Linked DNA regions of Homo sapiens: all the other regions are linked to region 2. Evidence: fine-mapped expression QTL. A gene starts in region 2. Each other region holds a variant in brackets. All regions are shown on one strand. Distances are between the middles of the regions. Region 1 overlaps DAPK2 (death associated protein kinase 2). Region 2 holds the start of DAPK2 (death associated protein kinase 2). Region 3 overlaps DAPK2 (death associated protein kinase 2).

What was found. PIP is the estimated chance that this variant, and not a neighbour inherited with it, causes the effect.
Region 1: its variant is the best candidate, but not a certain one, in a credible set for the expression of DAPK2 in esophagus muscle (GTEx, PIP 0.72).
Region 3: its variant is the best candidate, but not a certain one, in a credible set for the expression of DAPK2 in aorta (GTEx, PIP 0.68).

What each region holds. Positions count from the first base shown.
Region 1 is chr15:63,974,880-63,985,250 of GRCh38, reverse strand. It overlaps DAPK2 (death associated protein kinase 2), which reads left to right. Exons shown (of 12, transcript NM_014326.5): 3 at 1,497-1,718. Among named protein-coding and RNA genes, the nearest start is that of DAPK2, 66 kb to the left of the region's middle. The variant T/G (reference allele first, on the strand shown) is at 5,846.
Region 2 is chr15:64,043,752-64,054,122 of GRCh38, reverse strand. DAPK2 (death associated protein kinase 2) reads left to right here and starts at 7,638. Exons shown (of 12, transcript NM_014326.5): 1 at 7,638-7,825. RefSeq lists enhancers at 3,118-3,664, 9,205-9,254, 9,305-9,354 and silencers at 7,465-7,674, 7,695-7,754, 7,785-8,004.
Region 3 is chr15:63,902,540-63,912,910 of GRCh38, reverse strand. DAPK2 (death associated protein kinase 2) reads left to right here. Exons shown (of 12, transcript NM_014326.5): 10 at 714-803; 11 at 920-1,003; 12 at 4,311-5,875. The coding sequence ends at 4,391. Among named protein-coding and RNA genes, the nearest start is that of MIR422A, 37 kb to the right of the region's middle. The variant C/T (reference allele first, on the strand shown) is at 5,902.

The DNA of each region.
Region 1 (10,371 bases), 69 kb after region 2:
AAATTTAGAGTCAGTGGACGATGTAAGATAAATTTGGCTCCACAAAGCCTTCTCTGCCCAGTCCAGCCCCCAGGATCTTCTCTTTCCCTAGAGCTCCATCTGTACCTGTTGTCTGTGCCTTTGGTCCCTGCCCCGTAGTGCCTAGCACAGATCCTGGCACAGACTGGATGCCCAGACAGTGTTGATTGAATGGAGATTAAGGCAATGGAGAGATGCATGAGTTTGTGTTTGGGAACGTCTCTGAAGTGGCTGCCATAGAATGCTACCTAAGTGTTGGCCTATGTATCTGTTGCTTGCTGAACTTGACTTTGTTGTTGTTATTGCCACTCCGGGTATTTTGAAGACTGTCTCACTGAGGATGATGCTAATGATGGAGTGGTTCAGATGCAGTGCTATTTTGCTATTTTCTGCATTTGGGGCAAATATCCCAGGCATTTCCCTGTATGTAGCTTTTAACCCAGAGCCACTAAGAGTGTACCTCTTAAGTCTGGAGTCTGCTGGCCCCTTATTGAGCCATTAAGCTGAACCAGAAAACTTTCTGAGTTACTCAAGCAGTGGGTATTTTGGGTGGCAAGAAAACATGGGGCAATGATGGCAAATGGCAGTAAGGGGACGGGAGGACCCCCGGGCAAGATGGTCACTGGGAAGTCTCTGAGGACTTAGATCTGCTCCTGCTGGTCACTGAACTGAGGTGCAGAAGCAGGTGGTTGGTGCCCTTCCCTGTGGGGAGGGCCCCTGGAGCACTCAGGGAAGCTGGCTCAGGGCTGCCTGCCACTCTGCCATGGACTCCATTTCATGCTTGCTGTCTCTGTCCCTGGAGTAATGGGTTTCTGAGCCCAGCCCTGGGTACTAGTGCCTGAAGGGGAATAATAATGGTCTAGACTGCTCTAACTATCTCAGAGGCTTTGTGGACAGCCGGTTGGGTATCTGACTTTGAGGCTTGGCTTTGCCATTAACTCTGCGATGACCTCAGGCGAGTCACATGACCTATCCTTATGCCTCAGTTTCCTAATTGTACAACTCTCTGTTTATACCAAGTCCTCTGACTGTGATGCTCCCCCACTATGATGATTAACCTTGTTAGGCTGCCTCCTCTCCAAACTCTACCCAAACCTGGATCCCCACCAGCCCAGTCTGCTTATGGACATTGTGATTTCATCTGGTGGGTCCTAGACTTGGGTTCTAGCTGAGATTTTGCAATGACAAGGCTATGTCATCCTGATCAATAACCTTTCTGGGCCTCAGTGCTCACCTCTGTACACTGGGACTAAGAATACTAACATTCATTCCTCATAGAAGGAATGGACAGAAGGGAAGCCCAGTCCCTGCCCCATCTCATCCACAGGTTGTCATCAGGTGGGGATGCAGACTGGTGGCATGATTTGTCCTGTCCTGGCAGAATCACTCTGAATTTGTGTGACCTGGTAGCTGACAGTGGGGTCATTTCCCCAATGACCACAGTGATGACCTAATCTTGTGGGTCTGTGTCCCCACAGTGGCCAGTTTGCCATCGTGAAGAAGTGCCGGGAGAAGAGCACGGGGCTTGAGTATGCAGCCAAGTTCATCAAGAAGCGGCAGAGCCGGGCGAGCCGGCGCGGTGTGAGCCGGGAGGAGATCGAGCGGGAGGTGAGCATCCTGCGGCAGGTGCTGCACCACAATGTCATCACGCTGCACGACGTCTATGAGAACCGCACCGACGTGGTGCTCATCCTTGAGCTGTGAGTGGGGTCCCCAGGACCCACAGGGTTGGGGGGCAGCAGGGGCAGGCAGAGCAGTGGAAACTCCAGCCACAGGCCCCAGGGGGCAGCAGCAACCAGGCCTAAGCTCAGCCCAGAGGAGGTGAAGTCAGTGGTGGGCAGATCCCCTCTGTCTCAGTTACCCCCTTCCTCCTTACCCGCTTCCTCCTCCTGAAACTGAGCCAAAGGAGGGGCAAGCTTGCTGAATAGCAGGGGCAGAGGGCAATGGCCTAAGTCTGGCTTTCACTGGATCCTGGAGATCAAAGGGAAGAAATGACTGCACTGGGGTCTTTTCCTGGCTGGAGAAGCATGTGGGAGGGTGAGTGGGACAGATGGTGGGGTGGGGCCAGGGGAGGCTGTCAGCGAGGGCTGTGTACTATGAGGAGGGGAAGTACAAACATCTCTGGGCTCTGCGAAGCCCTTCTCCAGCCCTTTCCTGGGGAAAGTCCACTGCATTTGTGCTGTGAATGACACCTTTATTGTTATAATAATAGCTATTATTTAGAGAGTCCTACTGTAAGCCAAGAATTTGCTAGGCGCTTTCTATCTGTCGTCTTGTTCAATCTTTAAAGACTGTGATGAGGGAAATGTCTTACTAGTGCAGACAGGTTATTTTGTATTCATTGTGCAAGCCAAGTACTTCTGTACCTTATTTAATCCTCATAACAACGCTGTCACACAGACACTCTTATTATCCCCATTTTACAGACAAGAACACTGAGAGGCCAGGACACTTACAGGAGCCTATAGCCAGGAAGTGGCAGGACCAGGACTTGAGTCCACACGGCCTGTGCAGACAGCTATGAGTGTGAGGCGGGTTGGCCTTATGCTGGCTTAGCAGAGGAAGACCTCACAGTTCATGATGGAATTTGGATAGATGACCTCAATACTCTAGGGTTTGGCTAGCCACGCTGGTATCGTCCTGGGCAGGTGGGGCTCTGATAAACAATAGAGTTTGAGTTGGGTTGTGGACAAGTTACAGTGGCTGTGTCCAGTCAAGCAGCAAGGACTATATAAAGAATGTTCTGGCCTGGTGCAGTGGCTCATGCCTGTAATCCTAGCACTTTGGGAGGCCAAGGCGGGCAGATCACAAGGTCGGAGTTTGAGACCAGCCTGGCTAACATGGTGAAACCCCATCTCTACTGAAAATACAAAAATTAGCCGGGTGTGGTGGCAGGTGTCTGTAATCCCAGCTACTCGGGAGGCTGAAGCAGTAGAATTGCTTGAACCCGGGAGGCGGAGGTTGCAGTAAGCCGAGATTGCATCACTGCACTCCAGCCTGGGTGACAGCAAGACTCCATCTCGGAAAAAAAAAAAAAAAAAAAAAGAATATTCTGAGGCTCATAAGCATGTATACACCTGCCTGGTAGCGGGAGTGATAGAATCTCTCAGGAATCCCTGATTTTGTGCCCTTGGGCAAGTCACCTCAATTCCCTGAGCTTTAGTTCTCATCTGTAAAGCAGGCAGCCATCCTTAACCTGCCTACAGACTCGGTGGACCACCTGACATTTGAGATCATTCTAATTTGAGAACTATGCTCTGGTATTGGCAGGATATAGATTTAAGTAGCAGATGGACATTTGCATACTCTTGCATTTGATTCTTAAATTATCCATCTCGGTGTTTAAATGTATAGAATTGCCTGTGCTCTTCCCTTCGCTAGCTCCCAGTGTCCTCCATGTTTCTCCCACGGGCCTCCCAGCTGGTTGGACTACTGGATGCCTGCCCTGCGTGACCCAGAGAGAAGCTGAGGGTCAGCAGTCGGCATCCTGATTCCCAGCAGAGAGTGACAAGTGCACCTTTCTGGAAAGGCCGAGCCACTTCTTAAAAAGTTTATTATGGGGAGGAAAAAAAAAAAACTAAGCAGGAATGGACAAGAAATTACATTTATAATCCTACAACCCAAACACAGCTATTTATGTTTTTCTGTGGTTCCTCTCAATCTTTATCTATTTGTATACAATCATTGTACTTGTATAATTTCCTGCTCTACTTTTTTCCCCAATTAACATAATTCTAAAAATTGGCTTTTCTCTTTTAACTGACTATATGTTTCACTGAATTGCATACCAGTATTTCCCTTGTCTTAGTCCATTTTCTATTGCTTATAATAGAATATCTGAAACTGGTTAATTTATAAGGAAAAGGTATTTATTTCTTACAGTTATGGAGGCTGAGGAGTCCAAGGTTGAGGGGCCACATTTGATTAGGACCTTCTTGCTAATGGGGACTCTCTACAGAGTCCCCCAAGGCAGCCCAGTGCATCACACGGTGAGGGGGCAGAGTGGGATATCTCAGGTCTCACTTCTTATATAGCTACCAGTCCCACCCATGTAACCTGTTAATCCACTAATGCATGAATGGATTAATCCATTCATAAGGACAGAGCCCTCATAACCCAATCACCTCTTTTTTTTTTTTTTTTGAGATGGAGTCTCGCTCTGTCGTCTAGGCTAGAGTGCAATGACGCGATCCTGGCTCACTACAATCTCCACCTCCTGGGTTCAAGCTATTCTCCTACCTCAGCCTCCCAAGTAGCTGGAATTACAGGCACCCACCACCACACCCAGCTAATTTTTGTATTTTTAGTAGAGATGGGGTTTCTCCATGTTGGCCAGGCTGGTCTCGAACTCCTGACCTTAGATGATCCGCCTGCCTTGGCCTCCCAAAGCGTTGGGATTACAGGCGTGAGCCACCGCACCCCGACCCAATCACGTCTTAAAGGTCCCACTGCCTAATACGGCCGCATTGGGAATTAAATTTCAATGCGAGTTTGTAGGGCACAAATAGTCAAACCATAGCATCCTTATTGTTGGACACATGCTTTTTATTTCCTAGCTTTTAACCATTACAAATTTTACTGATAAAACAACTTTCTTCTCATGATTTTCTCCTTTTCTTTTTAATTAATTCTTTCAGCAAAGTCCTGAGGATTTAGCTAACATCCCCAGGAATGGGATGACTAAGCCAAAGGCTGACATTTTTGGGACTCAATATCCTCACTTTTCAAAGATGGTGCTGGTTAACCATTACTACCACAACGTAGGAGTGTTGCTGTGTGCCTGCAGCCCTGCCAGCCCTGGGTCATTTGTTTTGAAACGTGTTTCATTATTTATTGATCTTTATAGCTATAAATTGATACTTTCTTACTATAATTGGCATGCCTTTAATTGCTGGGGAAATTGCCTGCTTCTTCCTGTTTGTAGAACCCTAGGAGTCGGTGGCGGGGATGTGGCAGGTAAATGCTCTTGAGATGTCTGTGTTTTTCCCAACAGGGCTCATGGTCAGCCAGTTATGTGCCGGCTTCTTGTGAGCTCAGGTGCACCATCTGTAACATCAGTTGTCACGCTGGTGCTCCCATGACTTGCTTGGGCCTCTGTGCTTATTAAGTTCTGTCCCGTTTCTGTCTCCCCCTTCACTTCCAAGCTGTCTCATTGTTCTCAGGGTGCCTGTCTATGGACTGCTAAGAATTTATGAGATTGGAGAAGACCCAAGCGTTCCAAGACTGTCCCTAACCCATGTATGGCCAGGTTCTGAGAGGGAGGACCTCCCAGGAGAGGAGTTCCTGGGCTTTTGTTTTTGTTTGTTTGTTTGTTTTTTGAGATGGAGTCTTGCTCTGTCACCCAGGCTGGAGTGCAGTGGCGTGATCTCGGCTCACTGCAATCTCTACCTCCCGGGTTCCAGTGATCCTGTGCCTTAGCCTCCTGTGTAGCTGGGACTACCAGTATGTGCCCCCATGCCTGGCTAATTTTTTTTGTATTTTTAGTAGAGGTGGGGTTTCACTCTGTTGGCCAGACTGGTCTTGAACTCCTGGCCTCCAGTGATCCACTCGCCTTGGCCTCCCAAAGTGCTAGGATTACAGGCATGAGCCACCGCACCCAGCCTCATGGGCTTTTGTTGCTTAGACTTAGTGACTCCTGTTAGGCTGGTCAGAAGTCTTGGCCTCGTGGTCCTCACTGGGCCCTAATAGGTTAGTGGGTTTGCCCAGTAAGTGTTAGTATCCACCTACTCAGTTGAAAGCTGCCCAGTTGCAGGTTTTATGAATGAGTCTACGCTGATCCCACTGCCCCTCTCAGCAACTGTTGTCTGGTGCAGGGCTTCCGCCTGCT[T/G]TCTGCTCAAGTGGCCAGCACTAGGAGGACATGCCTGGCTCTGATCTAAATCCCTTTCAGTTGTTATTATCCCATCTGTGACCTCCCTAGAAGCAGCTGCCTCTGGTCGTGACTCTTGAAGGCAGGACTGGGAAGGATTTAATTGTCCATATAAGTTGACTTCTGTATGGGGTATAGAATATATTCAAAATCTCAGCAGCTTAACTCATGTCACATGTGGAACTAGCCCTGAAAAATGTAAGTCTCCCTGTGAAGGTTGGGCTGGCCTCCCATCACAGGCCCCTGACTGCTCTGGGGCCTCCTTGATTCCAAGCCTGTGGAAAGCGATACCGTGGTGGTTGCATACCAGAGAACTGCCTGGCAGAGTGCTCCAGGGTGGCAGTGATGCTTCCCAGGTTCCTGAATTGAGCCCAGCTTCCTGGGCCCAGCAGCTCTGGCAGCATTTTTCCCCTATCGCTGCCTGTGCAGGTCATTCATGTATACATTTCCAGAAGAGTCTGAAAAGCATTTCCAGCAGGCATGCCACCCTGCAGGGAGGAAGGAGGCAAAGGTCAGATTTGCAGGAAGGGGATGATCCTGGGAACACTAGGAGAAGAGATGAGGCCAGGTCGTGAGGCTTTGTTTTTCATCTTAAAGCTAAAGAGATGTGGGATGTAAGAGGAAAGAAACTTGGAAGGAGATGGGGGGTGGCTCCAGGGCAGAGGTCTTAGAGGGTAAAGAAATGACACTCAGGCTCCTTGGTTTGGCTTTGAAAAGAGGTGACTGAGCATTAATGTGAATGTCCCAGCCTGGGTATCCAGGGCCTAGACAGTGGCAGGTCATCAGCCTCCCACCTTTCTGAGTTTCTGGGGGAGATTCTAGGGGGCACAGTGGCTGTTCCCTTCTTCATCCCAAGGAGACCATGTCTCACCAGGTCTCCTGCCCATATCTCACCTTCAAACAGATGACTGATTACTGCACCCCAAAGTCCTCCCTCAACCCCAGACTTCATGTCAGTGGCTTTTGGGAATGCTAAGCTAAGAAGCTTTTACACTGATGCAGCATTTTATTTAAAGTAGGAATTGCAGGGTTATTATTTATTTAGATATTTGCCCGAGGTCACAGGCCCACACAACCTGGCAGGGGCTGGCAGACTAAGGGTGGAGCTGGGTTCTGTGTGTTTCAGAGGGGGCACTGCAGATGTGAAAATTTGCAGAGAGCTCTGGACAGATCTTTCACAAATACCAAGGCTTCACTGTCTATATGATACAGAATATTCTACATCATGTTGTTATTTTTAATGTTTTATTTCTTTCTTTCTTCTTTTATTCACCAAACTTCTGATTGAATGTCTTTCTTGCACTAGGTGCTGTGGAAGCAAAAATAATATAGCTGGGGAGAGAGGAAGATAGATAGTGAAGCCCACTGTGAGGAGAGCGTGGATGCAGCAGAGCAGGGATATCAGAGGACTGCCCAGTGCCTGGGGCTGCTTTGAGCCTTTCCATTTTGCATCAGCACCTCAGGCTTTGTAATGTGGAAGGGTTGTGGTGAGAGGGACACATGGTGAACTGGGGCTGAGAAAATCTGGGTCTAAATCCTGGTCCTGCCACTTACTAGCTGTGTGATCTTGGGCAAGTCACTTGCTCTCCTGAGACCTCAGTTTTCTCATCTGAGAATGAGGATGCCCTCCGGGTGGATATCAAGCTCAAGTGAGGAAATGTTTGGGAAAGCACATTGCACCGGTGGCAAACTTCAAATAAACTCTAAATCAAGCCCCCTTCCACCACTGCCACCCCTGATGATGACACCATGTACGGTGTTTATGTCAAGGACTTTATCAAGAATCTCATAGAGATTCCTCTCACTCCCACCCTCACATCCAAAGCTGGTAATGAAAGCATTATTTTTTTCACTCCTGTTTCACAAGAAGAAAAGTTGAGCCCTAGAACTCTCACATGTCCCACCCCAAGGTGAAGGTTGTATCTTTGCTGCTGAAGGATTGGAGCCATCATCTTGGCCCTTTGACCCCAGTCTGCAGAGCAGACCCAGGGTTACTCCAGCAGCTGGGAGGGTGCTCCAGCTTCCAGCACCTGCCCAAGGTGGGGGCAAGGGTCAGAGTGGGGCAAAGGACGGCCTCACCCATGAGACACTGAGAAAATAGTGCACCAGCCTGGTCCCCAACACCAAGGCAGCCACCTTAGGCCACACCCTACTCAACCCTGAGCAGAGGGGCGCTGCAGCTATGGCAGATGGTACATATGCTCAAATGTGCCATCTTATCTCAGTCTCTCTTCACCCTTTCACCTTCCCCCTTCCCCTTCTCTTTTTTTGCCTCTTTTTTGATGCCATTGATATGTTGGAAAACTAGGCCACTTGTCCTGTTTCACAGTCTGGATTAGACTTGTTCCTTCCTCATGGTGTTCTTTAACTCATTCCTCTGTTCCCTGTATTTCCTGTAACTAGTAGTTAGATCTAGAGGAGATACCCTGCCTATTGGCGCTGTCCAATAGAAATGTAATGTGAACCACATACATAATTTTAAATTTCCTAGTTGCCACACTGACTAAACAAAAAGAAATAGGTGAATTGATTTTAATAATATTTTTATTTAAAATTATTAATGAGATATTTTACATTCTATTTTTCAAACTAAGTCTTCAAAATCCAGTGTGAATTTTATACTTACAGCACATCTCAACCTGTTTTTTTGTTTGTTTGTTTGTTTTTGAGACCGATTCTCACTCTGTTGCCCAGGGTGCAATGGCACAATCACGGCTCACTACAGCCTCGACCTCAGGTGATCCTCTCAACCTCCTAAGTAGCTGGAACTACAGGTGCACATCACCATGCCCAGCTAAGTTTTTTTTTTTTGTAGAGACAGTGTCTCACTATGTTGCCCAGGCTGGTCTTGAACTTCTGGGCTCAAGTGATCTGCCTGCCTCAGCCTCCCAAAGTGCTGAGATTACAGGTGTGAGCCACTGTGCCCAGCCCACATTTCAATTCTTACGCAAAGCAATGCAACGGTTAAAGTGAAATGCAATTCTACTGAAACAATAAAGTTGTATTTAATGGAAAATATTTTATACCACTTCAGTTTTTAAATTAGAATTAATTAAAATTAAATAAAAGTTAAAATTCAATTCCTCTATTACACTAGCCACATTGCAAGTGCTCAGTAACCACATGTGACTAGTGGCTACTCTATTGGACAGCACATATCTAGAACATTTTCATCATTGCAGAAAGTTCTGTTGATAGTGCTGAACAAGAGGCTTAAGCGGATTTAGGTTCCATTTTGTAAGTCACAGCATATCATAGGTGTTGCTGTGTACTTTCTATGTCACTATTTTATGTCCGGTTGTTCTACTTTTCATGATGCTAAGATTATTGAGTGGGTCCAGGTGTGCTTCTGGAAATGTTTAAAGAAAGGAGAAAAGAAGATTTTGATGTTCTTTATTTAGGATGGACTAGGGGGCAGGGAATGATCCCCAAAGTTGGGTTGGAGCCATTTTAGCCATATAAGAATCATCTGGAGCCGAGCGCAATGGCTCACACCTGTAATCCCAACACTTTGGGAGGCTGAGGTGGACGGATTGCTTGAGGTCAGGAGTCCCAGCTTGGCCAATATGGTGAAACCCCATTTCTACTAAAAATACAAAAATTAGCTGGGCGTAGCGGCATGTGCCTGTAACCTCAGCTACTCAGGAGGCTGAGGCCTGAGAATCAGTTGAACCTGGGAGGCGGAGGTTGCAGTGAGCTGAGATCGCATCACTGCACTCCAGCCTGGGCAACAGAATGAGACTCTGTCTCAAAAAAAAAAAAGAAAAGAAAAGAATCATCTGCAATACTCAGTATGCTGTAGTGGTTGAGAGCTGTTCTGCTTGGGTTTGAATCCTGACTCTATTTACTAGCTATGGGACTGTGGGCAAGTTGCTTAACCTCTCTGAGCCTTTGTTTCTTAAAGTGTGAAATAGAAAAATGTTAGTCCTTAGATCATAGGATATTGTGATGATTAAATGAGATAATGTGCATAAGGCATGTAACATAGAGTATGTGTTCAATGAATATTAATTGCTATTATTATGTTGTTAGAGTAAAAATACAGGTTTTAAGGCCTCACTGCTGGAGAATCTAATTTGTTAAAGTCTATGGTGGGATCTGGAAATCTGCATTTTAAAACAAGTTCTCCAAGTGATCCCAAGGTCCTGGATCCCTTGGCCTAGAACCCTTCCTGAGATCTTTCCCTTTGGGCCCATGGCTTTATTTCAGCCCCAGTGGAGCACATGCTGGCTGGATACCCCAGCTTCTGTCAGAGGATTGTAAACCAAAAATTAAATTCTAAGCCCCCTCAACCAACTGAATAGACCCCTCTCTCAGCCAAGGAGATTCCAAAGTAAACCTGAAAAACTTTCAGGCCATGGTGGGAAGAGGGGTTGGACATGCCTCATTATACTCTCTGCCCATTTAAATTCGGGCACAAGTGACCAGCATTAATATGAAAACAGTGAACTTAAGCCTAACAAAACAGACTCTTTGCAGCAATAAGA
Region 2 (10,371 bases):
TCCCTGCCCATCTTGTTCCACACTTGAGCCCCAAGACCACCAGTTTCAACACTGAAAACTCTTTCTTTTATTTCCAAGAAACATTATTATAAAACTGCTTCATGACTTTTCAGTTTCATGTAGCTATTGACTTCCTATTATGAAAGACGAGGACTTAATTATTTTTTTTTGAGACAGACTCTCACTCTGTCACCCAAGCTGGAGTGCGGTGGCATGATCTCGGCTCACTGCAGACTCTGTCTCCACCTCCTGGGTTCAAACGATTCTTCTGCCTCAGCCTTCTGAGTAGCTGGGACTACAGGCGCACCATGCCCGGCTAACTTTTGTATTTTTAGTAGAGATGGGGTTTCACCATATTGGCCAGGCTGATCGCGAGCTCCTGACCTCGTGATCTGCCCACCTTGGCCTCCCAAAGTGCTGGGATTACAAGGCGTGAGCCACCGCGCCTGGCCACTTAATTCTTATACTTTTCCCCAACCCCATCCTTCTCTCTATTGAGACAAGACAAAAATCTATTGTTCACATGATGATGACATGTAAATATTATTCACTGCTCAAAGCTGAGCCATAGTGTATTATGATGACATTTCCTTACTTATACACCTTTTTGTTTTTTTCTAGAAATAATAATCACTTTATTTATTCATTTAATTTTTCTATGTACTTACAATAAATTCATCCCCAAACTTTCCTCTCAAAGAGTGCCACTCAGTAGGTGAAAACAGATTGCTTGATGTATGAAGTTCACTTTTTTCTTGGAGACATTGCCCCTGGAGCCTGCTGTGCCCCTGGGCTGTCGGGTCTGATTGCTCTCTAGGCCTGCTGTACGCCAGGCTTCCCTTCCCCGGGAGTCTGGGAATTCTGTCCACCTTTCTCCTGTGTTGGAAGCTCTATGATGAGGTGGATTACTCTGGGTGTGAAAGAAGATGTATGGCTCCTGGCCCTTCAGCATTGAGCACATTCTCGTGTCTCCCAGTATCATTCAGGTTCTTGCCAACTCAGCACAAAAGGTGTGCTGGAGGGTGAGAGGGACACAGCATCAATGAAGCTGGAGCAGCAGGAACCAAAGGGGCTCCAGAGGCTGGAAAAATCATCTGTCCAGGAGGCCTCGCCTGCTGCTGACCCCACTGTGAACATCTTGGCATTACTTATTTGGGATTCAAAGTGCTGGGCAGAAATATCTGATTGGCCATGCCTAAGTCTTATGGACACGAGGAAGGAAGATTTCCTCCCTTCAACTCTTTTTTTTAGAGACAGGGTGTTGCCGCTGTGTCACCCAGGCTGGAGTGCAGTGGAGCAATCTTAGCTCACTGCAGCCTCGACCTCCCAGGTTTAAGCGATCCCGCTGCCTCAGCATGCCACCAGGCCTGGATAATTTTTGTATTTTCTTTTATAGAGACGGGGTTTCGCTCTGTTGCCCAGACTGGTCTTGACATCCTGCGTGCAAGCAGTCTGCCTGTCTTGGCCTCCCAAAGTGCCTCCATGCCTGGCCTCCCTTCAACTTTGGTGGTGAGGGATGGTGCATTATATCCACTTACACAGCCACCATAGTTATTTCCTCCCAGATAGGAAGCAGGGATTGGAAACTGGGCAGCAAAACTAAATGTAAATATCCATCATGCTCTTTGATTGAATCTGTTTCCCCATCTATATAATTTTTAAAAATTCATATTGGTCTCAAAAATGCATTCAGCTTGAGGATTAAATGAGATAATTAGAAAACAGCACAGTGCCTTGGCTCATGATAAATTCTCTACAAATTTTGATTTGATCTGGGTGGAAGGATGAAAATATTTTATGTAGTTGGAGTGATGGAAACCAAGGCTAAGAGGCCAAAAAAATCTCATGAAAGAGAAGGGCTGAGGGAGCCTGGAGTCCTTTATCTTGGAGAACAGATCTGGAGGGGGCAGAGCCGGGCCTAGTCCTGTTTGGGGCAGAGGCCACTATAGATGGTTGAACTTAGCCTCCTGTGTCTTTGTTTTCCTGGATGCAGCTGTTCATAACTGGGTCAGGACCTGGGCTCAGCTGAAATGGAGTCACCATGCAGGTCAGGGAGGGCAGAGCAGGGCCCCAGGCAGAGCAGGGCCCCAAGTGGGAGGACCAGCCCACACAGAGGTCAGAGCTCAGGCGGGGGTGTGGAAGGAGCTGCTGTCCTACCCATCCTTCCTGCATGGATCCACCAAAGGCCCCTGATGACTCCGACTACATCCCTGGCACAGAGTGGGGAGGGTGACAGGGGTCACTCAGGGGACCCATCAGCAAACACAGAAAGGTGAAATCATATCTTCAGCTCAGCAGATATGGCTGTGAATTCTTAACTAATGAGATCTAGGAAGAGGTCCTTTCCTCTGAGGAGTCTCCCTGCCCCCTGCCCACCTTCCAGGCACTCAGGGTCCACCCCTCCCATGTCTGGGCTCCTTCTGGGATCTGCCTAGCCCCTGATCTGGCCTCAGAACACAGGATTCCAGGCATTTTGTTCCCAGGGTATTTCCTCTGCTTGGCTCTGAGTTCCTGCAGGGCAGGGCCAGTGCCTCATTTCTTTCAGGGCCCAGCCCAGAGTCTGGCCCAATGGGCACCGAGAAAGGATTGAAGAATGAATGAAGTTGGAATTGAGCTGAACCTTGGATAGATAAAGGAGAAAAGAAGAAAGCATTTCAGAGACAGAGGCAGGAACAACATGGCTGGAAAGATAGGGCATACGTGACCGACTGTCTTGAGGGATGGAAGGATCTGGTTTGGGAGGGAGGTTGACATTTGTGCCAGTTCTCTCTCTCTCCCTCTTTATCTCTGTCTCTCTCAAACCTTTCCTATGGTCCTGAGCCAGTGCTCTCTCAAACATCTGCCACAGTGTTTGTGAGTCTGGTCCTCACATCAGCCCTGAGAAAAAGACGTAATTATTCCCATTTTACTGATGAGATAACAGAGGCTCAGAAAGTGGATGAGCAGGAATACAAATAGGCCTGTCTGATTCCCGAGCCTAAAGAAGAAGGTGGTTGGATGTTGTAGCCCTAAAGGTGGGTATAGTTTGAGGGGTCCTGGCCACACAATGTGTCACCAGCCTCTGTCCTGAATAGAAGGCAATGGCATATGCATGGGTCATGATCCCATAGCGTAGGCCCTGTGCTGGCTCAGGTGGAAATAGGGGCGGTGAATGACAAGTGGTTTCATACCTGCAGCCCTTTACATGCACAGCTGCTCACACCCCATGTGCCCTGCCTCCCTTGCCCCACTGTGGACTTTTCTGTTCTCCCGGTGATCCCTACTCTTCTTTCAAGTTTGAATCAAGCTTTCCTTTTCTCTGGAGGCTCCTTCTGGAGTAGATCTGACCTTTTATGGCATTGGGTCTTTATTTGCCCCTACTCCAGCACATAACCCCAGGAGGTACTATTGAATGTTTGCGGAGTAAAAGAGTGTGTACACATGTCCAGGAAATCCCCATCCCCCAGGTTCTCTAGAGAGAGGCAAGGCCTCCCATCCCCCAGCTCCTTCCTCCCTTCTCTCCTCCCCTTCCCTGCCCCATCCCTGTGGTGCTGAGTCCAGCAAGGCTAGAGGCTGAAGCAGCTGCCTCTGGCTGCAAGAACCAGTGCCCCCGGGGGTGGGGGGGGTAGCAGGAAAGGTTGCCAAACCAAGCCTGCTCCACACCTCCCATCTAGGAGGGCAGATGGCACAGGGCAGAGTGGGCATGGCTGGGAAGGGCTGAGAAGCCAGGCCACCAGGTCAGTTTGGGAAGAAGCAGCTTCCTGCCGGCCTTCCATCCAGTAGGCAAGCCCTCTGGGGAGGAATCACCTGTGCACTCCCTTGGCCGAGAGCCTGAGAGTCAGGACTTGACCCGTTGTCAAGAAGACTGCATTTCAGACTGCATTTGGCAATTCTCTGGGCCAGGCTAGGGGTGGGATGGGGCGCAGAGATGAATAAGATCCATTTCCTCCCCAGGGGAGCTTATTGCCAGACATTTAGGGAATAATAATAACAGTTAATAATCATTGCGGACTTTACCAAGTGCCAGACACTGATCGAATTGAAAAGTAACTGCATGCTCACAACAACCCAAGAGATAAATGCTACTATAAGCTCCATTTGACCTATGGGGATAATGAGGCACAGAGAGATCAAATAGCCTGCCCCAGACCACATGGCACGTAAGTTGCATGCTGGGATGCCTGAGTGTGGGCCCAGGCAGTCTGGCATCAGAGTCTCTGCATTTAGCCGTCACACTACACATGCTGTAAGCCAACCCAGGTGCCATCTGCCATGGCCAACATGCAGCATCTTAATCCCCACCTTGCCCCCTTGTCAGGAGGTTTTTAGGCTCTGTAAACTTGCCAGGCACCAAAGTATGCTTTAGGATATCACCATGACTAGTGCCCTTTGCTGCCTGCCATGGTTACATCTTTATCTATGGGCTTGTATTCTCATCCCTGGGAAGCACAGGTCCTGTGACTCTACCATCTCACAGTCCCTTGGAATGTCTTTTACAAAGCAGGTACTCAGATGTGTTTGTCATTGAGGGGGTTGAGAATTTCCCTAGGTCTCTGTGACATGAACAGACTGGGTCTCAACCTGTGCACTGGGAATCACCTGGGGAGTTTAACAAAAACTGATACCCAGAACTCATCCTCAGAGGTTCTGATGTAATTGATGTAGGGTGCAGTCTAAGCATGGGGGATTTTAAGCACCCCATGTTATTCTCAGTTATTCTGATGTACTGCCTGGACTGAAAAGTTCCAGATTAACACTGTTTTAGAAATCTTGGAAGTTTCAGTTGAGGGAAGGCAGCAGAGGGAATAGCTTCAGAGACCAGTAGGCAAGATTCATGTCACAGCTCAGCCACTTACAAATTGGATGAGTTTGAGCAAATCAAATTTCTCAAGCCTCAGTTACATCATCTGTAAAAGAGGATAATGACATCCCCCTAGAAGTGAAGCACTTGAAGTAAGATTATTGAGCATCTACTAAGTGCCAGGTGCTTGGGTGCTCTTAGGGGACAATAGAAAACAAGACAGCTATGGCCCCTTGTGATATTTACCTTCCTTAATTCAGTTTAAGAAACCTTTACTGGGTTTGGGATATCAAGCACTGTATGGGTTCAAAGATGGACAAGAAATTGTACTTGCCCTTGAGAAAAGGAGAAGTAGACACTAATTAAAATAGAGGAAGGAAGATGACAAGAGATGTACCAACCAAGAGTGGTGAGGTTCAAAGGAGAGAGGTATTTAGAGGGCAGACCAGGGAAGTTTCTGTGGAAGACATGATACTTTAGAAGGCTCTTAGAGGATAGATAAGATTTTGTAGAATGGGATGAAGGGTAGTGGAAACGAACAAAAGCATGGAGGCAGGAACAGCCAATAATCCAACCTGGCAAAAGAGCTGGATGTGCATGCAGAGGAGGGAAGGGAATGTGCATACACAGCAGGAAAATAAGGGTTGGGGCCTTAAATGCTAGGGTGAGGCATTAACACTCGATTTGGTCAGCCATGGGAACCATGCAGGGACTGGAACTGAGTTGGATAATTCTTAGCTCTTAATACCTGGACTGCCTCTGGCTTCATTCTGGAATTTGTGTCTTCATTGCCACTGTCCTCGGGGCCTCCCCTTTTCTGCTGATGGCCACCTTGGTCCTGTGTTCAGTGCCCTGTCGCTGCCCTCAGGTGAGGGTCTGATGAACTCACCCAACCTTAAGCATAAGATGCATCTCCAGATGGTAGCTTCCTAGATAGTTGCATTCTGGCAGGTACAGTGGAAGGGGCACCAGACTGAATCTGGAGGAGGCCTGGTTCTAATCCTAGCTCTGTCTCTCACCAGCTATGTGATGTTGGGCAAGTCACCTCCCTTCTCCGAGCCTCAGTTTCCTCATCTGAAAAGTGGCCAGGGTCAATTGACAATGACCCTTCCAGCTGCAATGGACTCTGACTAACTTGTCAATTGCTAAACCCAAGAATGTCTCTTTTGACTCATGTAAGGGGCTGCTGCTGCTGACAATGAGGTATTAAGCATGAGGCTCAAGGGAAAGAGATGGAGAGGCCACATGTAGGTGATCAGCAGGGTCAGCTGAGCCCAGCCTTGGATTCATCACAGCCCAGGTACTGGGTATGAGAATGGAGAAATCTCCAGATGATTTCAGCCCCCAGCTATTCAGGTGTTCCCAGTTGAAATCCCAGACACTGCAGAGCAGAAATAAGCCATACACACTGTGCTGTCTGAACTTCTGTCCCTCAGAATGCATGAACATAGTGAAACTGTTGTCCTGTGCCACCAAGGCTGGTAATGGTTTGTCACCAGTGATAGGTAAATGGAAATGGAGGAAGAGGTGTTTAGGGATAGTTTGGTGGGGGACTTCTCATGTTGGTGAAACTTCACCAGTGGGTGTCATTCCCTTAGGTCCGTTGACATCAGAAACCACCTCTAGTCTTGGATATTACTCTATATATCATGCTGCTCTTAGGAGAGGAGGCTCGCTGGCTGCACTGTTCTGAATTATTGTGAAGTTTATAAACAAGGAACTCTTTGCCGAGGATGTCCTGGACCCGGAGGCACTGCTCAGCTGGGGGGTGGGGTCCATCTGTATTTGTCCCAATGTCCAAAAGGCTGAAGGGTGTGTGTGTGCTCACACTGGTAGAGGTCCTCTAGGTGCATCTTACACACTCCATCTCATCTCAGCCCCACCATAGCTTCATTAGGAGCTACCGGAAGGTGCGTTTCTCCCACTTTACTGATGAAGAAAGAGCCATGCCCAAGAACACACATGCGGAGTGGCAGGGCAGGGCTTTGAACCTGGTGGTAGGACTCTGAATCTAAGGCCCTTTTGAGGAGCCCCATGGGTGACTTAGGGATGGAAATTCCAGGGGTTGGAGGGGTCCTCATTTGCTTCCTCTAAACAGCCTCTTGTTTTGAAATAAGACAAATGAACTTGGCTTAAGTTCTGTTTTCCCTTCCTTCCTCCCTTCACCCCCTCACTCTCATTCCTTTTTTCCTCAGGGATTTTTTGGCAGAGGGCAGAGAGAGGAACCCATTCCCAAGTCCTCTATTAGAGAAGGCGTGATGGTGAGAGGGGGGCTTCACTCAGCAACCGTGCCAGGACAAAGGGCAAACGAGGGCAGGCCGCTCTCAGGCTGGGTCGGGGGCAGTGAGGAGCAGAGCGGCCCTTCTCATCGCAGCCCCCACCTTGCTGTACGCTGTGGGCTTGAGGTTTCCAGGAGAGTCTGCGGTGTAGGGAGCGCTCTGGCTGGGAGGGAGGAGACGGCCTATTCCTCAGTGGGGCTTCCTCGCTCACGGTGTGTATGGTGGGGAGAGGAGCACACAAGTACCATTTTCTGAGGATTGTGCCAGACCATGTCATACGTATAAGCTCATTCAAATCGATTTCCAGATAAGGCCGGGGGAGGGTAGCCGACTTGCCCAAGGCCACGCAGCATGTGCGCGGTAGAGCCGGTAGGGACGCGCAGAGGGTCTTGCTACCGACTCTCCCCGCTCTCCCGGGAGTCTGGGAGCCCTGAGGTGTCCCCTACCCGGCCGGGAAGCTGGGCTCTCGCCCCGGGACTGTCCGGAGGGGGCTCCAGCAGGGGGCGCCCCGAGCCCCGTCCCGGGCAGCCGGGCGCGCCTCCAGCCGGCGCCTGGGACGGGGCTGGCCGCTCCGCCCCCTCGGCTCCTAGGCTGCTCGGCGGGCGGGTGCCGGGCGCTCTGGGAGGAGAGGACTGCAGGGCCGAGCCCAGCGCACCCCGCCGCGTCCCCCGTTCCCGCCGCGCCCGCCGCGCCCGCCGCGCCCGCCGCGCCCGCCGCTCCCGCCGCGCCTGCCGCGGCCGCGACCGCGGCAGCTCAGCCTCCCGCCGTGAGTAGCACCCGTCTGCGGGCTCGATGGGCGGGACGGGGCGCGCGGCCTGACGGCAGCAGCGCCCGGGTCTGGGGCTGGCGGGGCGAAGAGATCCGGGGCACTCGCTCGCAGATCCCGGGCCCGCCGCCCCAATGCCTGACGCCGTGGCCCGGGGCATTGTGGCCGGCACCCGAGCGCGGGAGCTGCCCGCCGCTGCCCTGGGGCGCCCTCCGGAGCCTGGCACTTTGACCTGGGAGACAGGGTAGAGGCGGCGGGCAGAGCCAAGCACCCAGCAGGGAGATGGGAGACAGACGTCCATCGAGTTAGGCCCCCTGGAACGGGCAGAGCACGCCCGGCTCCCGGCCAAGTCTTCTCAGCTTGGGCTGACTCTCTCACCTCTTGCTCCCGCCTGGCACAAGGATGTGATGCGAGGAGGGTGCTCAGATGTCTGAGCTTCCTCTGGGGCTGAATGAAGCTGGGGTCCCCGCCGTCAGGCGCCCCGGCCTGGGGTAGAGCTAGGATGGGCGTGGGGGCGGCCAGCAGGTGTGCTGCAGGTTGGGGTGGAACGGCTTGGAAGGGCGTTGCCAACAGTTGACTAGGACTCTGGGCTAGGCATTTTGGAGGTCCCAAGGCTTGCATAGGTCTGGCTAACCCTCACCGTAACTCTGCACGGTGGAAATTGGTATTCTTACTTTACAAAAGAGAAAACAAGGTCCAGAGAGGTGAGCCTCGTTGAGGCCGTGCAGGTAATGGTAAGGCAGTGGTGCACACTGGAGGAGAGGGCACCATAGCTGGCTGCCTCGGGGGCAAGCGGGCAGGTGCAGGGACAGCGCCTGACATCTTGTATCCTGGAATCCTGTGGAGGGCAGCCACTCTGGTTTCTGACACTGCGACTCCCAACTGCCTCTGTGGAAGATATTCCTGGGAGAGTCCTGTTGACCTAAGAGGCCGTGGTGCCTTGGCCTCTTCACAGCTAACTTCACAGCCCTGTCCTTCCCCAAACCGCTCATCTCCCAAGATGTTTTTTGAGCACCCTCAAGTGGCACCACTGATGATTCAGCACCTTCAGAGGAGACTTGGGCAGAGGGGTCAGGGGTGTGTGGATGTGGCTGGAGGTCTGCTCCTCTGGGGTAAGTTCCTGGCTGGCAGGAATGAGACCCGCACTGACCCTGCCCACCTCCTTGAGGCCTCCCGATTTGTTAGCTGTGGGGTGAACAAGCAGGCTTCCCAAGGGAGCTGGATCTTTGCCAGAGAGACCAAGTTTTTCTTGTGTCAACTCAGGCAGGTGGCTGACCTTCTGTGGGCCCCAGCTTCCTCATTGGAGACTGTGATGGGTCAAAGCCTGGAATGTAGAGAGGAGCTCTGTAATGCCGGAGCCCCATCCCTTCTGTTGGCAGCCTCTCCAGAGCCTGAGTGTGATGATTCCTAATGGGGGTGTGTGTAATGAGACGGTCGTGTGTGTTTTGCCCAACCATTGCCTGCCCTCTTGCTGTGGTCCCGTTTCACTCACTTGCACTTGGTGAGGTGGGATGAGGAACTGAGAGAGTTCACTTTGCAGAGTGAGCTGGGCCAGTGGTGGAGAGGGCTTCTTGAGTGTTGAGAGTTTCCTATGAGGTGATCTTCCAGCCCTAGACACCTCCTCCTAGCTTGTCCCTCAGGAGGCCACTGACTTTGCCAACCCTGGTGACATCTTGGAGGAGTTGGGGTGGCTATCAACAGAAGAAGCCCTGGGAAGAGGAGCGGGATGGGTCACCTGTATGATGCTCAGTGAGTCCCTTCCCCTTTCTGGATCTCAGCTTCCTCTTGTAAAAACAAGTGGGTTAGACCAGACAGCAGTGGTTTTCAAACTTCTGTTTCACAGTGAATTCTTACCCAGAACGCCAACATATAGTATGGATAACGTGGAACTGCTCTGGCTTCCCCTTCTCACCCTGGTGATCCTGAAGCAGTTCTAAAAATCCCTAAATAGATGATCTATGGGGTTCTAGGAAATCTGTGGTAGCCCCCTGAAGTGTTGCCTGGTATTAGAGTTGTAGGCAGGAATTTGAATTCCAAGGACTCCATCAGGAGAAACATGGGCATTAAGGTGGGTATCATCCTGGGAGCATCTGGAGCTGATGGCCTGTGCTTCTGGCCAAAAGTTGTAACTGTGTCCCTTCCCTCTGCCATGTGATTTCAGCTTTTCGAGGCTGGAAAGGTCCTTGTGCCTCTGGCTCCTTATCTGGGTCCTAGCTGGTGACTATAATTCCACTTCAGTTTCACCCCTTTAGTTTGTTTCTAAACTGGTAAAATGCAAATTCGCCTTAGGAGAGGTGTTAGGAAAGTGCTTGAAGTGGCTATCAGTTGTTTTACCTGATGAGCATCTGAGTAGCGGCCTTGAGAAAGGAGGCTGGGGAACTAAGTTAAAATCAGCCAACACTTATATAGTGCCTACTGTGTACTAGCCTACGACAAGGGGACAGAGGTAGGAATGTCACAATTCTTGCCCTTATGGGGCTCCAAGTCACAAAGAGGAGGGAAGGAATTCACGTTATCCATGGACCGTTTAAAACATTACACATGGG
Region 3 (10,371 bases), 140 kb after region 2:
TGTTGAAAAGGGAATGGAGAACGCAGGAAAGCTCACAATAACTTATTACTATTTATTGAGTGGTGCTGGGCTAAGCACTTTATATATGCATGATCATATAATCCTTAACAACCCTGTGACATGATATTATTATCCCCATATTACAGATGGGGAAACTGAGGCTCAGAGAAGCCATCCCAAGCTTCTTGGAGAAGTCAAAATTTAAGCTGAGCTCTGACTGCCAGGCTGTGAAAAGCAACTGCACATCCTGTTGCCTCTTGACTTTCATCAAAGCCCTTATTTCCTTCCATTTATTTTTTAATGGAGTATGAATTCCCCGTCTACCAACAAGGCATTTGTTTTGCCAAGCCCAGAATCACCCCAGTGCCCAGAGGGCATCCCAGACTGCTGTAAAATGACCCTCTCCCCAAAGTGATGTGCGATTGGAGGGCCTGCCTCCTGCTATTCCCCTTCAGGAGCTGCTGAGCCTCCAGCCAAGGCTGTGTGTGTGTCAGGCTGTGGTAATAATAGCTGAGAGGCAACTCCTGAACAGCTGAGACATGTGTAGCTGTTGCCCTGACTGTGATGCTCCCACGGTGTGCCCCACCTGGCGGGGAGATGCCAGGGTCAAGCCAAGGGCGGTGGGCATGCGGTGGGTGGGGAGTTCTGCGGCGAGGAGGGTGGCTGCTGTCTGAAGCCCAGCATCAGCTGCCATGCTCTGCTTTGTCTCTCAGCCGGTGGACAACCAGCAAGCCATGGTGCGCAGGGAGTCTGTGGTCAATCTGGAGAACTTCAGGAAGCAGTATGTCCGCAGGCGGTGGAAGGTGTGTCCAGGGTTGGGGCGGCGGGGGACAGGGTGGGGGCTAGGGCGGGGTTTCTGGCTCTCCAGGGTCTCCATGCACATTCTCACCTGGGGATTCCTTTCCTCTGCCTCCCTCAGCTTTCCTTCAGCATCGTGTCCCTGTGCAACCACCTCACCCGCTCGCTGATGAAGAAGGTGCACCTGAGGCCGGATGAGGACCTGGTGGGTAAATGCATGCCCTCTTCTTGGGCAGAATTCTGGGGTAGCCTGGAGCTCAGGGATGGGTGAGTTCCCTTTCCCCTCACAAGGCAGGTGGGTGTTCACTGTTTCCAGCCAGTTCTGCTGGCCCAGTCCTCCTCTTCCCTGAAGGCTGAAGTGTGATCTTCAGAGGAGTGTGTTCTGGGGACCTCTGGGTGGTGCCGGGAGGGGACCACTGATGCAGCAGCATGAACTCCTGGAGGATCTCCCATCCTTTCCTGGTGGGCCTTCAGAGGGGCCGCTGCTGCCGGCTGACCACAGACAACCCAAAATGTATTTCTGATAACCCAAAAGCTGCTTTAGAATGGGAGCTTTACATTCTTTTTTCCATATTTCTATTTCTGCTTTGTTTCAGATTACCATCATCATAATATTTAGACAATATCTTATATTTGATTACTTTATTGCCATTTTGTATACATTTAAAGGGAGTAGCTTATAACAGAATATACTGGTGAAGAGGGTGCCCTCTGCAGTCAGACTACCAGGATTCAAATCTGCCACTTACCGTGTGACCTTGAGGAAATTACTTAACCTCTCTGTGCTGATAGTTCATCATTTGTAAAATAGGGTTAATAATAGTTCCTAAAGATTAAATAATGACATATTCTTCCTCTTCTTCTTCTTCTTTTTTTTTTTTTTTTTGTTTGTTTAGACAGAGTTTCACTCTTATTGCTTAGGTTGGAGTGCAATGGCGCGATCTCGGCTCACCGCAACCTCTGCCTCCTGGCTTCAAGCGATTCTCCTGCGTCAGCCTCCTGAGTAGCTGGGATTACAGTCATGCGCCACCACACCCAGCTAATTTTGTATTTTTAGTAGAGATGGGGTTTCTCCATGTTGGTCAGGCTGGTCTCGAACTCCCGACTTCAGGTGATCTGCCCGCCTCGGCCTCCCAAAATGCTGGGATTACAGGCATAAGCCACCATGCCAGGCCAATAATGACATATTCTTAAAGCCTGGCATGTAAGTGCTCAGTAAGCGTTAGCAATTGTTGTTGTTTAAAACCTTCCTGTAGGCTGGCAGTAGTGGTTCGTGCCTATAGTCCCAGCACTTTGGGTGGCTGAGGCGGGAGGTTCATTTAAGGCCAGGAGTTAAAGACCAGCCCAGGCAACAACAGTGAGACCCTGACTCTACAAAACAAAAACAAACAAACAAACAAAAAAATTAGCCAGGTATGGTGACAGGCACCTATAGTCCTAGCTACTCAGGGAGCTGAGGTGGGAGGATCACTTGAGCCCAGGAGTTAAAGGTTACAGTGAATTATGATCACACTACTGCATTGCAGCCTGGGCGACAGAGCATGACCCTAACTCTAAAGAAAATTAAGTTTCAAAATTAAAAAAGTAAAATCCTCCTGTAGACTTTAAAATGCAGTTGGTAGGGGTTCCCTGGACAGCCCCTCCCCCCGCTTATGGAGCGTGGTGTAGGGTGCTCAGGAATGTCTGGGATGGCACAGGTCAGGACAGAAGGGGACGCCCTGCTCAGGGAGCGACTGGGAGGTGGGTGCCTAAGAGGGCTGAGCAGCCTTATGATGCACGGCTAGACCTAGGATAGCCCTGCTGTCCCCACTCCCTCCACACAGCCTGGGGTCTTCTCTCTTTAGCATGATCTCTTGCCAGCACTTGAGGATTTATGGCCCAGAGGCCCCAAACAACTGTGTGGCTTTGGCCAAGCCCTGTGCCGGCTCTGGCTGCTTTCCTCGTCTCCTATGCAGGGCACTGGACCGCTCTCCCGCTGAGAATCCCTGATAATGACAAGCAGACTTTACCCAGCTTATTTTTTTACTGTTTGGCTCTGACTCAAGCTAAAAAGTTGCTATTCAGCAGAGCTTGAGTTATTTTTATTGTTATAGCCGGGCTTGGTCTAGGATGTATTTGGCTAAAGTTGATCTTGACCTTGGATTTCCAGCTGGCTCAGGCTGGAGGAAGGGGAAAAGGCCCTGGGAGGATGAGTGGCAGATGGTGGGCATGCCTCGCAGGCTGAGCCGCTGGCCCTTCTTCCCTGACAGATACAATCTGTGGGGAGAGAAGACCAGAGTAATTGAGAAGAATGTCAATTTTTTTTTTTTTTGAGACAGAGTCTCACTGTGTCTCCCAGGCTGCAGTGCAGTGGCACCATCTCAGCTCGCTGCAACCTCTGCCTCCCGGGTTCAAGAGATTCTCCTGCCTTAGCCTCCTGACTAGCTGGGATTACAGGCTTGCACCACCATGCCTGGCTAATTTATGTATTTTTAGTGGTGATGGGATTTTGCCATGTTGGCTGGGCTGGTCTCGAATCCCTGACCTCAGGTGATCCACCCGCCTCGGCCTCCCAAAGTGCTGGGATTACAGGCATGAGCCACCACGCCCAGCCAAAAAGAATGTCAGTTTCTTTCCAAACTTTTGTTCTTGTACAAATATTCTTAAATAGTACTCTTTTTACTCAAATAGCAAGCACCATCAGCTCAAAGGTTCATCCTAGAAGTGGAAAAATGTTGGGTCCCAGATATCTGTTATGCAGTTTTCCCAAAGGGACTTTCCTTAAAAAAAAAAAAAAAAAGAGTAATGATAGGTCCTTTTGTTTAGGAAGCACTGGAATTGAACATTGGACAACAGATATTTTAGGAATGAAGTCACTGTGGATTAGTACTTCTTTTAATAATTTTATAATTACATTAGATCATCATGACTTGGATGAAAAGACATTATGGCCTCGGGGTGGCTGCCTCAGCTCTGGTTTGCCATGTAGGAACTGACAGACAGTACTTTATACTCATTTCCTGTTTTATAAAAATGGAGCTCAGAAGTCATTTCCCTGGAAACACTGGTCAGCAAGGCGGCTGAAGGTGCAGCCCATCAAAGAAGAAGGGGCATGGGATGGTGGCTGTCAAGCATGGGGAGTACCTTGTGGCTCACACCCATCCTCCAGTCTCTCTAGGCTGAGCTCAGGAGACCCAGCAGCCACAGACCACCCAGCCAAGTGGCCTTGATTATATGGCAGCCACAAAGGGAACTAGATGTAATTTTCTTTATTATAATTTGGCCTCTCCTGATGTCTGGTTTCCCTTAGATGCCCTGCTGCTTTCCTTCCTCCAAGCAGTTGGTCTGGCCTCGTTTCAGATCCCTCCCATCCCCCAGCCCCTGGATGGATCAGCAGGCTTGCTTTCACCACCCACCTCCCTGGCTTGTAGTCCCGTGGTCCAGGTGAATCAACCCAGGTTGCCCAGCACAGCCCCATTCCTGGCGTCTCATGATCCTCCTGCCCTGGACCTCTTTCTCTTTTTTTTCTCCAGAGGAACTGTGAGAGTGACACTGAGGAGGACATCGCCAGGAGGAAAGCCCTCCACCCACGGAGGAGGAGCAGCACCTCCTAACTGGCCTGACCTGCAGTGGCCGCCAGGGAGGTCTGGGCCCAGCGGGGCTCCCTTCTGTGCAGACTTTTGGACCCAGCTCAGCACCAGCACCCGGGCGTCCTGAGCACTTTGCAAGAGAGATGGGCCCAAGGAATTCAGAAGAGCTTGCAGGCAAGCCAGGAGACCCTGGGAGCTGTGGCTGTCTTCTGTGGAGGAGGCTCCAGCATTCCCAAAGCTCTTAATTCTCCATAAAATGGGCTTTCCTCTGTCTGCCATCCTCAGAGTCTGGGGTGGGAGTGTGGACTTAGGAAAACAATATAAAGGACATCCTCATCATCACGGGGTGAAGGTCAGACTAAGGCAGCCTTCTTCACAGGCTGAGGGGGTTCAGAACCAGCCTGGCCAAAAATTACACCAGAGAGACAGAGTCCTCCCCATTGGGAACAGGGTGATTGAGGAAAGTGAACCTTGGGTGTGAGGGACCAATCCTGTGACCTCCCAGAACCATGGAAGCCAGGACGTCAGGCTGACCAACACCTCAGACCTTCTGAAGCAGCCCATTGCTGGCCCGCCATGTTGTAATTTTGCTCATTTTTATTAAACTTCTGGTTTACCTGATGCTTGGCTTCTTTTAGGGCTACCCCCATCTCATTTCCTTTAGCCCGTGTGCCTGTAACTCTGAGGGGGGGCACCCAGTGGGGTGCTGAGTGGGCAGAATCTCAGAAGGTCCTCCTGAACCGTCCGCGCAGGCCTGCAGTGGGCCTGCCTCCTCCTTGCTTCCCTAACAGGAAGGTGTCCAGTTCAAGAGAACCCACCCAGAGACTGGGAGTGGTGGCTCACGCCTATAATCCCTGCGCTTTGGCAGTCCGAGGCAGGGGAATTGCTTGAACTCAGGAGTTGGAGACCAGCCTGGGCAACATGGCAAAACGCAGTCTGTACAAAAAATACAAAAAATTAGCCAGGTGTAGGGGTAGGCACCTGGCATCCCAGCTACTCCAGGGGCTGAGGTGACAGCATTGCTTAAGCCCAGAAGGTCGAGGCTGCAGTGAGCTGAGATCACGCCACTGCACTCCAGTCTGGGTGACAGAGAGAGACCATATCCAAAAAAAAAAAAAGTTGCCAGAGACGAGTATGCCCATGCTCCCTCTACCTCACTGCCACCACTCCTGCTGTTAGGAGCTGAGTGTGTCTCCCTAAAATTTCTATGTTGAAGTCTTAACCCTTGGTACCACAGAATATCACTGTATTTGGAGATGGGGTCTTTAGAAAGGCACTTAAATTAAAATGAGCTCACTGATATGGGCCCCGATGCAATATAATTGGTGTCCTTATAAGAAGGGGAGGTTAGGACACGCAGGAAAGACCACATGAAGGCCCAGGAGTGGGAGGGGGAATAGCCATCGACAAACTAAGGGGGCCTCAGAGGAAACCAACCCTGCTGACACCTCAATCTTAGACTCTGGCCTCAAAAATTGTAAGAAAATAAACTTCTGTCTTTTAAGCCACCCAGTCTGTGGTACTTTTTTTATGG[C/T]GGCCCTAGCAAAATACACACTTGCCAACTACAGCCAAGATGGGGGCAGGAGAATTCCTAACGATGTGGGCGGAGAAGGGCGAAGAAGGATCCACGGCGAGAAGGGAGAGGAAAAAGACGGATGACCTGGCCCCTTCGGTGGAAATGGCAAGGGAAGCTCACTCAATGGCATCGAAATGTGGGCCCTGTTTTTCAGGCCAAAAGAACAGTGTTGCTGAGCAGCACTCAAGAGACGACCCATGGAAGTCAGAAATAAAGTCAGGGCGAGGCCGGGAGATTGGGAAAGCACATGGGAAGAGGCTGAAAGAGAAGTTTTGGAAGGTGAGGAAACTGAGCTGAGGAAGTGAGCCAGGAAGGAGAGAGGGGGGAAAACTATTATTAAAAGGAAAGGGTGCTGGGGAAAGAGGTCCCAGTTCCCTTCGTCAGCAGCCAGTTGATGGGTCCAGAGCAAAATGACCCCACAGGAACAGCAAGGCGACCCAGTTTCAGAAAAGTGTCGAGCCAGAAATGGAGTGAGCCCACAAGCTGGCTGCAGAAAGCTTAGCAGCTGACCTGGACTTCTTGAGCTTCCCCAGATCTCAGGCAGAAACAGTCCTGTGCCTCCCTCCACCCTGGGAGGATAGCAGAGGCCGAGAACTGCCAACTGTGGGCAAGGGCCCTGGGCCTGCGAGGGGCTCTTGGCTATGGTTGGTTACATAAATCAGCAGGCATGTTCTGGAACAGGGCTCACTGGGAGCTCCTAGGAAGTCAGTTACGGTAAAGGTGGGGCTGCCCTCCTGCTAGGAAGAAGAGCAGGAAAGACCTTTGACAAACCCAGTCTTGATCAGAGAGCCTTTTACAACTTGTCTAGCCCAACCACTATGTTTCACTGAAGAGGAAACCGATGCCTAGAGAGAGGAAGTGACTAGTGCTTCACACAACAAATTTGTGAAAATATCTAATGAAAGCCCAGACTTTCTGGCCCCTAGTAACGGTGCTCATTTCTTCAGCTGATAAACTGCAGTGGACCTTTCAGGAAAGGATGAACCGTTCGCTTTGCCTCATTGTTAACGAGTCTCATCTATTCTTGACTGTGGCCTGCCTCATCCTTCATTCTTGGAAATGGAAGAAATTGACACACTTGCTTCTGCCCATCTTTCACAGTAAAGGACACTGCCCCTGGATGGGGGCATCTCAGCAGCCCACCCCCACAGGCTGCAAGGCAGTCAGGGAACCAGTATTAATCGGGCTCCTGCTGTATGCTTGGCACTGTTCTAGATGCTGGGTTGGAACAGAGCAGGACAGACACAGACCCTGTCCTAAAGGGGTCCACGTTCTCTAAGCCCTGGGAAACCAGGACTCCATCATGCCCATATCTCCTCCTGGCCCTCTTCTCATCCAGGTTATATAAAGCACTGCTGACTGAGTCTTCTTAGCCCAGCTTTCTGGTGTTGGATGGCACCTGCTGTGTTTCCTAGAAGCCCTTGGGAAGCACAGGGCCAGGCAGTGGGCAGAGGGGGGCCTTTGAGGATGCACAATCCTTTGAGGATGACTTTGAGGACCAGCAGCCAGAAGCCAGGCACCCATGCGCCTCCCAGACAGGGGCCCAGTCCCTGTGGCCTCTGCTAGCAGACGACTGCGGCCCCCAGGTGTGAGGATGAGCGCAGCAGCTGGCCCAGGGCGCCACGTGTGTTCTGTTGGCTCTGAAGAAGGATGTGTTGACCAGCTGACACTTACAGGGCTGAAAGAGACCACAGCATTCTCAGAGGCAAATGGAACATTCCAGTGATGAAAGCCATGCCGGTTCAAATGCAATTCTTTCAAGAGGTCTGGAGGGTTCCTGCCCCAGAGTGTGTGCTTATGTGAGTGTTGGATGCTGCATTAATATTTCACAAATATCCATATAAATATTTTAGTGTGTTGCATTTCGATGTCAATCTCACTAGCTTTCCTGACTCCAAATCTTAGATTGCATTTGCCTTTTCCCTTCGCATATTTATTTGTGAAAACCTTATTTTGGAAGCAAATGAAGGCCATACTGTAAGAGGTGAACTACAACATCTCTATGAAGGAAAAGTCAGGCCCTGGACTCCACAGACAATCAAAGTAAGTACACGTGAAAGAGCTAACTTGAGGACTTGTTTCTCACAGGGAATTCTATCTGGCACAGGATTGGAGAACTTTCCTTCCATAGAGTCCCCAACTTGATTTCATCCTGATATTGTTCTGTTCACTGTAGCTGCACCCCAAAGGAAAATGTCTTCCTTGGTGATCTGCTGAGAGGATCCCATTCTAAGCAAACATTAATAGGCTTAGGGATTGAGCAGCTGAAGATCTGTGAACAATGGTTAATTGACATTTCAAAAAGCAGACACACCATTGGTGAGTTCCCCTTAACAGTTTCTCTCCTCCGGTTTTTCCCTCTCCCACTGGTTCTTCTTCTCTCCCCCTTCGTCCATTAGCAATTCATAATATATAGCTGAAGTATATATTTTAGTCATTTATTTACTTACTGAATGAAATTCATGTTCCCAGTTCTTAATCTAAAAAGCAGTTGATTATATTATCTAGGGAGAAATTTTTTTAAAGTATTTTTTCCTCTATGGGTCAGTGATCCTCCACCCCTAAGCTAGAGGAAGAGTGAAAGAAAAGAAAATGAAGCTCATAATAATTGTTTAAAATCTGCTCTGCAATAGGAACATTTTGCATACATTTCATTTAGTCCTCTTCCTAATCTTGTAAGGGAAATGAGAGCCCCATTTATATGATACAGCTGAGATTCAGCGGAGTTAGGAAATTTGCATGCAGTCACACAGCTGGAGTACTTAGAATCGGGATTCCAGCCCAGTTTTGCCTACCCTCAAATCCACATTCTTCTCTACTTTTCCTGGAGAAGTACGGTGTTCAATGAAAAAGTAATCCCGGAGAACTATGTACACTATTATACTCTTTTTTTTAAAGCTCACAAACTATGCCATAAGTTGTTTAGGGATACATGTGAATGTGATAAAATTTAATTAATTAATTAATTAATTTTTGAGACACAGTTTCACTCTTGTTGCCCAGGCTGAAGTGCAATGGCGTGATCTCAGCTCACTGCAACCTCTGCCTCCCGGGTTCAAGTGATTCTCCTGCCTCAAACTCCCGAGTAGGGATTACAGGTGCATGCCACCATGTCCAGCTGATTGTGTATTTTTAGTAGAGCCCTATGTTTCAGCATGTTAGCCAGGCTGGGCTCGAAGTCCTGACCTCAGGTGATCCGTCTGCCTCGGCCTCCCAAAGTGTTGGGATTACAGGTGTGAGCCACTGCACCTGGCCTAAAATTGAATTTTAAAAGCAAGGGAATGACCACTCTCAAAATTCTGGATGAAACTTACATCTGGGTGGCTGAGATGGGGAGGAGGACAAGGTGGGCACTGGGCTGTTGGCAGTGTTCCAGCCAACACTAAGTTCACGGTGGGCTCCTGCAAGTTCTATTTATTATAATGCTTTCTAACTTACATATTAGTTGTCTATGCTTTTGCATGTATCAAATATTATGTTAAAGATAAAGGGAGAAATGAGGTGAAAAAAGTCCATCCTAATGGTCACCATTTGCCGCAGCAGCCTCTATTAGGGACAGGACGTAGTGCCCCTCCCTGCAGTGTTTTTCTCACACGACTCGATGGTGGGCTTTTTTTGTGTTCTTCTACCAGCACCTAGATCAGAGGTCATCACACCACTCAATGTGAGAATACCTGGCTGGAATTTTTATTTCCCTTTTATTTATTTATTTATTTTTAAATTTATTATATATATATATTTTTTAGATGGAGTCTCGCTCTGTTGCCCAGGCTGGTGTGCAATGGGGCAATCTCGGCTCACTGCAACCTCCGCCTCTTGGGTTCAAGTGATTCCCCTGCCTCAGCCTCCCTAGTAGCTGGGACTACAGGCGTGTGCCGCCACGCCCAGCTAATTTTTGTATTTCTAGTAGAGACGGGGTTTCACCATGTTGGCCAGGATGGTCTCGATCTCTTGACCTCGTGTTCTGCCCGCCTTGGCCTCCCAAGGTGCTGGGACCACAGGTGTGAGCCACGGAGCCCAGCCTTTATTCCCCTTTTAAAGAGAAGGGATAGGAAATACCCTCTGCACCTCCCAGCCCTGCCTCCTCAAACATCACTTCCCCTGGGAGTTTGCGTAAGGACTTGGGTCTGAGGACAACTTCCAAGGCCGACGAAGCTGAGTTTGCCAGCTCATGCTCTGGTGCCTTCATGTCTCTTTGGATTTAAACCCAGAGGCCAGAACAGCATTTGAAAAGTCAGCTGGGCCATTATCCTGCTCCTAGATGGGATTGCACTTGGGTTTCTTCGTCTCATTTTGGAATTGAGCCAGGGAGATCCTATATCATCTCTCAATTCCCTTTTCCAGTTCTTAACAGTCTTTATTATATTTTACCAATCAGATCCAAAAAGCCTGGGCTAAGTCCTGCCACTTTGCAGCTGTTGGAACTTA